2 linked regions of the Homo sapiens genome follow. The main gene of each other region encodes a partner of the protein of the gene in region 2 in a complex. Each region holds a gene or a part of one and is shown on either strand. Other genes may lie near its edges. A codon is read from its position in the direction of its gene.

Evidence for each region.
Region 1: the proteins of KCNQ1 (region 2) and KCNE3 are in contact, whole or in part, in a cryo-EM structure (PDB 6V01), measured with the Homo sapiens proteins. Residues at the interface, in NP_000209.2 of Homo sapiens: Arg116 (codon at 2,695), Pro117 (codon at 2,692), Thr118 (codon at 2,689), Gly119 (codon at 2,686), Trp120 (codon at 2,683), Cys122 (codon at 2,677), Phe123 (codon at 2,674), His126 (codon at 2,665), Phe127 (codon at 2,662), Phe130, Leu134, Leu137, Ile138, Val141, Leu142, Ile145, Gln147, Tyr148, Arg181, Met238, Val241, Asp242, Gln244, Thr247, Lys362, Asn365, Ile368; in NP_005463.1 of Homo sapiens: Asp54 (codon at 3,288), Asp55 (codon at 3,285), Asn56 (codon at 3,282), Ser57 (codon at 3,279), Tyr58 (codon at 3,276), Ile61 (codon at 3,267), Met65 (codon at 3,255), Phe68 (codon at 3,246), Ala69 (codon at 3,243), Val72 (codon at 3,234), Gly73 (codon at 3,231), Leu75 (codon at 3,225), Ile76 (codon at 3,222), Leu77 (codon at 3,219), Tyr79 (codon at 3,213), Thr80 (codon at 3,210), Arg81 (codon at 3,207), Ser82 (codon at 3,204), Arg83 (codon at 3,201), Val85 (codon at 3,195), Lys87 (codon at 3,189), Asp90 (codon at 3,180).

Annotation. Positions count from the first base shown.
Region 1 is NC_000011.10:74,454,117-74,457,609, forward strand, and holds the end of KCNE3 (potassium voltage-gated channel subfamily E member 3), read right to left. Parts: intron 3,488-3,493; coding exon of another isoform or gene 3,448-3,487; coding exon 3,136-3,447; 3' UTR 725-3,135; downstream 1-724. UniProt on the Homo sapiens protein: Ancillary protein that functions as a regulatory subunit of the voltage-gated potassium (Kv) channel complex composed of pore-forming and potassium-conducting alpha subunits and of regulatory beta subunits.
Region 2 is NC_000011.10:2,440,139-2,448,138, reverse strand, and holds the start of KCNQ1 (potassium voltage-gated channel subfamily KQT member 1), read right to left. Parts: upstream 3,132-8,000; 5' UTR 3,041-3,131; coding exon 2,655-3,040; intron 1-2,654. UniProt on the Homo sapiens protein: Pore-forming subunit of the voltage-gated potassium (Kv) channel involved in the regulation of cardiomyocyte excitability and important in normal development and functions of myocardium, inner ear, stomach and colon.

The sequences.
Region 1 (3,493 bases), about 72 Mb from region 2:
ATGTTTAAATTTTACTCCCTTCAAATCCTAGATTTTTATTTAGTCCAACCTGGGTGTGTGTAAGGAAACATACCAAGTTCTTAGTTTGTGAATTCAGACAGATCCGTTGTTCCAGGCCCCGAGATCCCTGGAGTTGCCCTGGTGTCTGCAGCTCCTTCTTTAAACTTTGAGCTACCCCATACACCTCAGAAATTCCCTTTTGTACTTATGCTAATATACATCAGGTGCCTGTAACTCACAACCAAAATAATTTGTATTATTTTATGATTATGCCCATGGAGTGTGAGGACTGTGTGAAGGGGAGCCTTCTCCACTGGGGACACTGAAGTCATGGAGTAGCCCCAGGAGGCCTGCTTCCTGCTGTCTCCCCAGCCTACCTGCCCTCTCCAGGAGGGAGCTCCCCAACATCTGCCTCCAAGCTTCCCTGATCTTGATCCCTTCATTCACTCTGCCCATTTAGCTCTGTCCTAGCTTTCAAAGCCCAGTTCAAGTTCTACCTCTCTCAAGTTCTACCATGGGACCTAAACTGGGCTGAAGGTACATGAAGGTGCTACAGCAGAAACACCTCTGTGGAAATACTTGTAAGGAATACCTACTTACTACATAGGGTTGTTATGAGGGTTTTAAAAGCTAAATGAATTCAAGTGTCTGACTCCTCCTAGTCAATTTCATTTCTCAAAATCCTTATGGCATTCATCACCTAACCATTCATTCTTACACCCAATTGCGTTCCATATTTTATTTGGAAGTTTGGGCTGGGTGGTGTCTAAAGTCCTATCCACGTAAATTTCTGAATCTGTTGTCTTCCCATATGTCACATCTCCTTAAGGAAGTCTCCACCTTCTCCCTCAAGAAGAGATGAGGAAGGGCTTGAGCAACAGGGCTCAGCACAGGTTTGCAGAGCATCAACATAACTGCATATGGCAGCAAATGTGTTCCATGATCCTCCATTCAAGAACCCAAAGGCTTTTATTTTTATTTTTTCAAAATAGAAGTACCTTTTTTCCTTTTATTATACAAGTAACATACTTACGGTCAAGTCAGTCAAATATTACATAAATTTATCATGCGGAAAGGGAAAATCACCTATAACCCAATTCCTCAGAGATAACTGCTGTCAGAATATTATTTCAGAGTTCTGCTATACACAAATACGCATGTTTCAATGGGTACTTCCAGGGACCGCATGGAGATCCCTTAAGTTGAAACTGGACAAACAGAACAGTGGATGGTTCTAGCTGAGATCTGGGATAGTTTCTGAATTCAGAAGTGTTCACCAGCCACATTGCATGTATTAGCTGGAACCATATATGAAACTACGATACTCAGCTGTTTCTAACCTACAAACACAGTGATTACATATGGCTCAACTTAATGTATATGAAGCCTAGAATGTCAGAACTGATAGAGCCTTAGAGACTTTCAAGTCTATTTCATTATGTTGAAGAGGAAAACGGATGAGGGAGAGAAGTGTCCAGCCTAAGATCATACATCACCTTAAGTGGTAGAATCAGGGCTGCTTCTCTTCCTACTGGACCATGTACCTGTCTCTCATACTCTGCTTCTTTTAATATAATAATAATTTAGGTGCGATATCAGTCTTTTTTGTTTTTGTTTTTGTTTTTTTTTGAGACAGAGCCTTGCTCTGTCACCCAGGCTGGAGTGCAGTGGCGTGATCTTGGCTTACTGCAACCTCCACCTCCCGGGTTCAAACAATTCTCCTGCCTCAGCCTCCCAAGTAGCTGGGAATACGGGCACCCGCCACCAGGTCTGGCTAATTTTTGTATTTTTTTAGTAGATGGGGTTTCACCATGTTGGCCAGGCTGGTCTCGAACTCCTGACCTCAGGTGATCCGCCCACCTTGGCAGTATCAGTCTTTTAGAAGCAGATTCAACATGACATCAGAAAACTTCTCTCAGATAGTCGTGGTGGCTTACACTTGTAATCCCAGCACTTTGGGAGACCAAAATGGGCAGATAACTTGAGGACAGGAGTTCGAGACCAGCCTGGGCAACATGTGAAACCCTGTCTCTACTTAAATATATATATATATATATATATATAAATTAACTGGGTGTGGTGACAGGAACCTGTAATCCCAGCTACTCAGGTGGCTGAGGCAGGATAATTGCTTGAACCCGGGAGGTGGGGGTTGCAGTGAGCCAAGATTGGGTTGCTGCACCACAGCCTGGGTGACATAGGGAGACTGTCTCAAAAAAAAAAAAAGAAAAGAAAAGAAAAGAAGTTTCTCACATCACTCAGTCAAAACTGAAAAGACTGCTTGCTTTGGAGGTAGTTTAGTCCTGTTGCCTGGCAATGTGGCTGGGAAGTGCCCTGTGACTTGGTTCAAGAAGCATATGAACCATAGAGCTAACGAGGCCTAACATTCAGGGTCCTGACTCACATGAGCTCCTTCTTAAGGTCCTAGCAGGGGCCCTAGCAACATATTAATGTGGCAGTATATTTTCATAATGTTTGCAAAAGTAAGATATTTTAGAATTCTTTTTCTTAAAGAGAGTCCCCAGAATTGTATGACCTTCAGGCCTGGATCCACTCCTGTGTAGCACAGAGTTTTGAAAAGCACTAGGCAAGGAGACCAGAGTTCCTGGGTTCCAATCATGGCACTATGCAGGCCCAAATGGGCAGCACAGCACTTGCCCTGCTTTCTTCACGGGAGCGGGGGCAGGGTGGTGGTGGTAAATCATATCTGTGATATGGGATAGTCATCACTGCTTCTCATGGCTGAAGATAACACATAAAAAATGTGTCCCCAGAGCATCTTCCTGTCTCATTTCCCTCTGCTACAACTTCTTCTCCGTTCTCCAATCCCCAGGCCCCTAATACTCCAGCCACTGAACCAGTTATTGGTCATTATCTGTTGCTACTTTTATATGTTTGTTCATGGGCTCCCACTGTTTATAAAGTCTATCTTTTCCTGGGAAAAAATCCTTATGCACAAGGCTTCGGTCTACCAGCCCCTCTTCTCCCACCCCAGTGACGACCTCCCTTAACCGTGTTTCTTGTTGATCTTACAGATAGGGACACTGAGACCTGATGCAGTCCACAGCAGAGTTCTGGAGGCCCCAGACGCAATCCCCAGGTGTCTTGGTCTTCCACCGTCCCAGCCCTCTCGTGTTAGATCATAGACACACGGTTCTTGATATACACATGATAGGGGTCACTACGCTTGTCCACTTTGCGGGAGCGGGTGTATCCCAGGATGAGGCTGCCCACAGTTACAGCAAATAGAAACATGACAAAGAGAATGTACATGTAGGAGTTGTCATCACGGCCAGGTAGGCTGGCCCGCCTCTCTTCAGTCTGGTTGTCTGGCCCCAGCCCTGGCCCTGGCCGGCAGAGCAAATTGCTGTGAAGAGTGGCATTTAGAGCCTTCAGCACGGCATGCAGGCTCTCATACCAGGTCTCCGTTCCATTGGTAGTCTCCATAGCAACAGGGATTGAGGTGGGGGAAGACTCGGTAGAAGCTCTGGTG
Region 2 (8,000 bases):
GGAGCTAGGACCGCTGGGTGCAGCAGGGCTGTATGGACCCCCATCCCCTCAGCTAAGATGGGAGCTGCCCCCAGTGGGGGCGCAAGCAACCACAGATAACTGGGGGTGTTGGGGGCAGGAAGCCTAAGCGGGCAAGAGTTGTGGCCCAGGTGCCGTGTCCACCCCGGCCAGCCCAGGGAGGCCAGAAGGAACACAGGAAGAGCTGCTCTCCTGGGGAGGGGGGGTTCCCCGAGGAGGGGACAGGATATCCTGGCTGGCTTCCCCAGGCGCACACAGGAGAGTTCGCCCTAGCCCTGTAGGGTCAGCGGAACACCGGCTCCTGCCTCAACCCCCCTGCACACATGCCTGGGCCCTGGCTCTTCAAGGCCAGGCTTGTCGTCTTCAGGCCAGAAACCACAATATTTCTCATTTCACAATCCACCTAAGGACAGGGCCCTGTCTCCGCCACCATTGCCAAGACTTCTTACAGCAACACAAGGCTGGACTGGCGCAAGGCTGGACCTGATTTCGTGAGGCTGCAGGTGGCCTCCAGCTACTCTGCCATCCTGGTTCTATGACCAGGTCTCCCCTCAAGAGACTGGTCCTGCCAACCTCCTAGGGCACTGAGGGTGGGAGCGCATCTCCCAGGCCCCCACCAAGCCACATGTCCTGCCCAGTCAGGGTCCACCTCCAGTCCCACCCCACATGGAGGTACCTGGGTTGGAGGCTGTTCATGACAACTTCCCAGGGCCAGGCACACGTCTTACAAGGACAGGACCCAGAACTGGAAAGGACCAGCCCCAGATCTGGCCACTTCACAGAAGCATCCCTTTCCTGGCCACCCCTTCACAGAAGCCATCCTGCCCCTGTCCCCAGAAGCCACCCCTGCCTTGCCAGCTCTGCGGAGGCTGGGCGAAGGTAGACTCTTGCTGAGCAAACTTCCGAGACCTAAACAATCCAAATGAGGAAGAAAACACAAGTGCAAGCAGAGACTTCCTCTGGGGCGTGGCGAGCCCTCTTCCTCCTCTTCCTCCACACGGGTGGCTGCAGTGAGCCCGGAGGCATGTGTCCACAAACCTGAATACAAGTGAGAATTGAGGGGGTCTGCGGGCACTTTGCCTTGGCCTCTGGCTGAGGAGGTCTTCCCACCCTTGGACATCTCAGAGAGTCTGGGGTCCGGGAGGCAGGTGGCCACCAGCACACAGCACCTGTGAACCTGGCATCTGCTAGACATTTGCACAGTGGCATCGGACTGGGTTCCCCTGGGGTCACTGCACACAAATATCTCCCAAACCCCAAGCCGAGCCCCCGCTGTTGCAGCCACGAGCAGAGCCAGCTCCTCTCACAGACCAGCAGCGGCTGTGGCTCAGGCACCCACTGACATGTCAGGAGACAGGGGCTTGGGAGCTGGGGTGGGGAAAAGTCTCCAAGATCACCCCCCAACCACATCTTTGAGGAGGGAGGTGGGTAAGACTTCCCCTTCCTGATGTGGAAGGCCACCTCTTAGCAAGGAAGGCAGTAGCCCTGCGACCCCTACCCCACCCCCTCACCTGAGACGATGCTTGAAGCCATTTGGGGCCTGGCTCCTGCTGTCACCCGCCCTGAGGCCCTGGTGGCAGCTGCCAGCAGGCATGGACAGGCCTCTGGATGCCCTCCAGCCAGTTCTCTACTGAGCCTGCCCGAGGCAGAGGAGATGCTTCCACCTGAGGACGCTCAGGGAGACCACCCTTCAGCCCTCAGGTGAGCCCCACAGCCATCAGCCATGGGATGTCTGGGTAGAGGCTCCCAGGCCAGAGGCTGGCACCACACCAAAAGGCCGCTGGCTGGGCAGCCAGGAAGTAGGGCCACTGGGGCAGCGGGGGAAGGCCCCAGGCAGGCATGGAGGAGAGCAGCCTGGACCTTCCCGGAGGTGACTTCCCAGGCCTGTCCCTGAGAAATCCAGTGCCCAGCCCTGCTCAGGCACGCTGTACCGGGAATTGGAACCACCTGGTAACAGGGGGGCCAGGTGCCTCTGCTACCAGCGCTGCTTTCTCCGGGAGCACAGCTGCCTCTTAGTGAGAGCTGCAAACGTGCCTCTCCGCTCTCTGCATCAAGCCAGGTTTTCATGAGCTTGGTTCAATTAGTTAATGTGGGGCCCGTGGGGACGGCCCGTGGCATGCTGAGCCCTCAGGGAGCACCGCCACCGTCACCTTCCTATCCTGGACAGCCCCCTGCCCCAGAGTCCACCTGGGCCTCAGGGGGTCTGAGATGCGGCACCGGACATCAGGGGCCTTCTCTCTTGGGGGCTCCTGAGCCTCGAGTCTCAGCCGACCTTGAGGAGTTATCTTACTGCACCCAAGGGTGCGCTCCCCAGCACGCTTCTCTTCCCAGAAGGATTCACACCTGGACTACCCTCCCGGAGGTGTGGAGCCAAATTCTGGGCTCCAGGTGGTCCCCTCCCCAGCCGGCTCCCTCCCCACGCCGGGCCTGCGAGAAGATGCGCACCCCCAGACACAGCAGCGCCTCTGAACTTCAAGGGAGAGTGCAGAGTTTGTGTTTCTGCGTTTCCCCACTTCCTTCCCTCCTCTGCTCCGGGGTCGCAGCTCCGACGGGGCAGGTGGCGCTGGGACAGAGCTCCCCCACACCAGCTCTCAGGAAGCACCTTCGTGCCGGCCGTCGCCGGTGGCGATACTCACACGGCGAAGTGGTAAACGAAGCATTTCCAGCCGGTGGGACGCTCGAGGAAGTTGTAGACGCGGCCCTGGACGTGGGTGCGCGCCAACACCGGGCGGCGCGTGCTGTAGATGGAGACGCGCGGGTCTAGGCTCACCGGCGGCCGCGGGCCAAGGTCGGAGGCAACTGGGGGCGCGGCGGGCGCGGCCGGGGACGCAGGGGGCGCGGGACCTGGGGCGCCGGGCGCGATGGGCGCGTAGAGCGCGCCGCCCGCCGGGCCGCCCTCCGCCAGCTCCAGCGAGAAGGGGCACTTCTTGGCCAGGCCCGCGCTGCCCCGCCGGGCGCCTGGCAGGCGGCCCCAACCCCAGCGCTTCCTCTCGGCCCTGGGCGGGGAGGAGGCCGCGGCCATAACGAGGAGGGCCTGCCGGGGGGCCGGCCCGAGCGGCGGCACCGGGAGCTGCAGCGAAGGCGAGCGCCCGGGCGCAGTGCGGGCAGCCACTGCTGCCAGCCCCGCCGCGGGGGGCCGCTGCCGGCCCAGCCCGGGCGCTCGGGGCGGGGCCGGAGGGGGCAGTGGCCGAGGGCCGGTCCCATGGGACGGCGTGCCCCGCCCCCGCCTGCACGCCCCGCCCCCGCCGGTCCGGCGCGCACAGGGCGTCCCTGCCCGCGCCCACCGGCTTGGCCCGCCCTCTCCCCACGGACCGGCCTGGCCCTGCCTCCGCCTCACCCCCTGGCTTGGCCTGTCCGCGCCCCCGCCCCCGCCTGCGCCCCCGCCCCCACCCCCACCCCCGCCCGAGCCCACCTGCTTAGCCCCGCTCGTGTCATCTATCCCGCTTGGCCCCGCCCCCTCCTCGCCCACCTGTTTGGCCCCGTTCCAGTGTGCATTTACCCCGCCTGGCCCCGCCCCCTCCCCGCCCACCTGCTTGGCCCCGCCCTCACCCACCTGCTTGGCCCCGCCCCGTCTGCATCTCCCCTGCTTGCTCCTGCCCTGCCCTCACCCACCTGCTTGGCCCCCACTTCTGATGCCCGCCTGCTCTGCCTGGCCCGGAGGAGGACCCCAGCTGCGCCAGGGAGGAAGGGGTAAGGCCTGGCCGATACCACGACCGAGAACGGCACAGCGGGGGCAGGAGGGGCGGGGTAGGGTGCCGGCATCTACTTTCCCTCCCTCTGAGCCACTCCGGAGTTGGGGTTGGGGGGAGGAAAGGGATGTCCTGGGTGAGGGTGTGCTGGCCCCGCGATCACTGTGAGCGCCCCCGGGTGCCCAGGCGCGCGAGCTGCGGGCGGCGAATACGCTCGGGTCGCTTCCCACCAGGGCCCTTGGACCGGGAGGGTGAGATGGGACCACCACTGTCAGGTACCTCCCAGTGGGAGCTGTGTGGGTGGGGAGCCGGCAGGGCTGCTGGGGGGTGGGGGCGGCACAGCCGGGGTCTGGACCTGGTTTGACTGCCGGGCATAGCAGGCGGGGCTGCCTGGGCAGTTAAAGGGAGAGGCGCTTGCGCCACCCTAGTAACTTGGAGAATGGGCGCCTTGTCCTCCCCACCGTCGAGACCGCGCTGCCGCTGCGCCCCGTGGATTCCCCTGGGTGGGGGTGGGTTGGTCACATCGGAAGATTTTCACAGGTCTCTGCACTGCCTCCCGCCCGCTACTGGCATTTGGGTCTCAGCACGTCTCAGGCTTGGGGGGGGGGTGGGGGGCAGCCAACAGAAGAGACCGGCTTTTTTCAGGATACTGCACACAGCCCTGAGGCAGGGACTAAAGGTGGAGCTCAGCGGTGACTCTCCGCCCCGCCAGGAGACCCATAACTCATGTGACACTTCCAGGTCGTCCCTGAGCACCCTGGGTCAATTTGATGTATCTACCACCCCCTGCCAAAAGTCTGCTCTTTTATCGTGGACGGAGTCCAGCCCAGGCCCTTGACGCCTGACTCCCCACCCTAGTGAGGTGCCACACAGGAGTGCACAGTCTGTATTTGCAGCAAGAGTGGATGGAGTGGGTCCCAGCTTGTGCTGGGCGCTGTGATAACACAAGGGAGGCCGAGGAGAGGGTACCTTCCTGGGAAGCATATCAGTGAAGGTGCAGAAGGGCAGCGGGTCAGAAGATGGGGGCAGTCAGTCAGCTCTGCAGGGCACACAGCACGCATTCAGCAGTTACTTTCCGGGTGAACATACATACACCTGCATGGAGTCTCTGCCTTCCCCTCCCACCTCAGCAGGAGGAAGGTGAGCTTTGAATAAGCAGCGTTTGGACAACTGGACAGTCATAAAGAAAGAAAAAGCATACCTTGGGTCCATCTCACCGCACACGAGAATAAATCTCAAATGAATCAGAGGCTCAAGTGTAAAGGGTGAGATGAAGCCATGCAAATTCTACAAGAATGTACAGGTCAATTCCTCAAGAACCTGTGAATCGGGAAAACATTTCCAACTATGACTTGAAATCCAAAAGCAACAGATAAAATAAGAAAAATTAAAATAGAAGCACCATTAGCAAAGTAAAGGAGACAAATGACCAAATGGGAAAAGTATTTGCAGTTTCGATCACAAAGGATTAATATCACTGATACATAAAGAACATCAAAACTGAGGTGAGGAACCTGCCAGACAGTCCTATAGAAAAGGGAGCAGAAGACATGAGCAGTTCATAGGAAATGGGGTTCATGACCTTTGCACTTATGAAAAAATGTTCAACCTCATTTATAACAAGAAAAATGCAAATGAAAAGTACACTCTGATACCACTGCTTGCTTATCAGATTGGCAAAAATCCAGACTTTTGATGGCAACTCTGTGGGAGAGGCAGCAGGCACAGGTGCACTCCTCATCACTGGTAGAAAAGAGACCTAGCGATATTACTAAATGTATCATTTGACACAGAAACCCCACTTCTAGGAAATAACCCAAAGATATGTAGGAAAAATAGAAAAGTACATATACATAATGATAGTCAAAACAGCATTTTTTATATTAGCAAAAGTCTAGAGACAATCACAATGTCCTTCAATCGCTTCAGCTGTGCTGTGGTACAGTCACACGATGGAGTGCCATGATCAATATGATCACTAATACTCAACCAAAGGATCCCAAAGAACTCTGTGTGTGTGTGTGTGTGTGTGTGTGTGTGTGTGTGTGTGTGTGTATCAAAGAATGATGCTAAATTCCTTTGGAACCAAGATTTTCAGTATAAAAGTGATACAGATTTAAAAAATCAAAGAAGTACAAACCAGTCCTTAAATTGAATGGACTATATTAGCATAGACTCCTCAGCTATTTTATCTTAGGAAAAAGGTATATCCTACTATTGTTCATTGTCAAGTTTGAGAAGGGGCTGATCAACAATGGGACAATTTGAGCATCAGAAAGAGTCATGGATGAAAACACATCAAATAGCTGAAAAGCCCATGCATTCATGATAATACTGAAAAATCCTATTTGATCTTCTGCAGGTTGCTTTGCTCATTATTCTGAAAACGAGTGAAAAGGCAGGGCGGTCAGGCAGGTCAAGCCTCCATATTTTAAAAATTCTAGGCCGGATGCAGTGGCTCACACCTGTAATCCCAGCACTTTGGGAGGCCGAGGCAGGCTGATCGCTTGAGGTCAGGAGTTTGAGACCAGCCTGGTCAACATGGTAAAACCCCGCCTCTACTGAAAATCCAAAATTAGCTGGGTGTGGTGGCACACACCTGTAATCCCACCTACTCAGGAGGCTGAGGCAGGAGAATCACTTGGACCCGGGAGGCAGAGGCTGCAGTGAGCTGAGATCGCACCACTGCACTCCAGCCTGGGTGACAAGAGCGAAACTCCATCTAAAAAAAAAAAATTCTAATAACTCACTAGGGAGGCTTCTTGGAGGCCCCCAGGGCTGTCTCCTGGGCCCTGAGCTGTGCCACAGCCTGCTGCTCTGGGGGTATGGGGTCCCATTGGCTTGGGGACACTGAGGCAGGAGAGAGACTGGACAAGGGATTGTCTTCAAGCTCCCTGCAAGCTCCAAGGAGCTGAAGGGGGATGGGTGGGGAACTGAGAGGAGGGAGTAAGGCCAGGTGCGCAGGTGAGGTAAGGTGGGGCTGGGCTGGGCTGGGTGTGGGCTCAGGTGAGGCCAAGGGCTGAGGGTGGGGGAGTAAGGGTGGATGGCCTGGTAGGACAGACAATACAAGTGGGGCCTGACCGAGCCCAGTGGCCACTCTCTGTGTGAGCAAGGAGGTGAGGAGGGCCCCCATCAGCTGAGGGAGCAGGACCGCAGGGTTGTAGCCTCCCAGCTGCCACCTGCTCTCTCCAGGACACACCCTCCACTGAGGAAAGCCCCTCCTCTATCATTCCGGTGGGTGCACATGTCCAGCCCTGGCTGTCCTAGATGCAAAGACTGACAGACCTATCAGCCAGCATGAACAGGAAGGCAACCCTCTCCCAGCCTCTCAGGCTCTCAGGCTGTCCCAGAGCCTCAGAACCTTCTGGAAACATGGCACTCAATCTACCTCACACCAACCTTCCAGGGCTGTTTGCCGACATCCCTCAGCTCACCAGGCTCACCTCATGTTCCTCCAGCAGGGTCAGAGGCCCACAGTGGGAGGAGCCTCAGAAGTCACCAAGAATGCATGAGGAATGGGGAAGCTGAGGCTGACCAAGGGAAGGGTGTGTGGCTGCTGTGAGATCAGCATCTGCGGGCCAGGGCTGGGCTGCTAGAACAGCCAGGCCACCACAGGCTTCCTGGCCAACATCCTCCTTCAGGTAGTCTTCCTACCTATTCATTCATTCAATCATTCGTTCATTCCCCCAGATCCTCGCAGAGCACCGGCTGAGTGCCAGGCGCTGTTCTAGGCGCAGGTTACAGAGCTGTCTCACCACCAGGTAGTGGTGGGACAAAAAAAACGAAGGGGGCACAGGATGGGGGTGCAGATTGTGGAGGGTGGTCAGCAAGGGTCCCAGGGGCGTCTCCACAGAGACCCTGGAGCAGGCCCTTCAGCAAATCTGGGAGGCATTTGCTGTTGGAGGAGGACTCTGCATGCAGGAGGCACCCAATGCAGAATGGATGGGAGGGTAGGAGATGGGGCAGGGTGGCTGGACAGAGCCACCACCCTGTATTCCTCAAGCTGATGTGTCTCTCCAGAGGATCCTTATGCCTGGCGAATGTCTCCTATGGATATGATGCCCTACATCTGTAAGGCATCACCCCATTTAAGGCCCTGCTGTTCTTTTTTAGATTCAGAGGGTATGTGTGCAGGTTTGTTACATAGGTATATTGCGTGATGCTGAGGTTTGGGGTATGGATGATCCCATCACCCAGATAGTGACAATGGTAGCCAATAGTTTTTCAACGCTTGCTCCCCCACCATCTACCAGTCCCCAGTGTCTATTGTTGTCCCTCTATGTCTATGAGCAC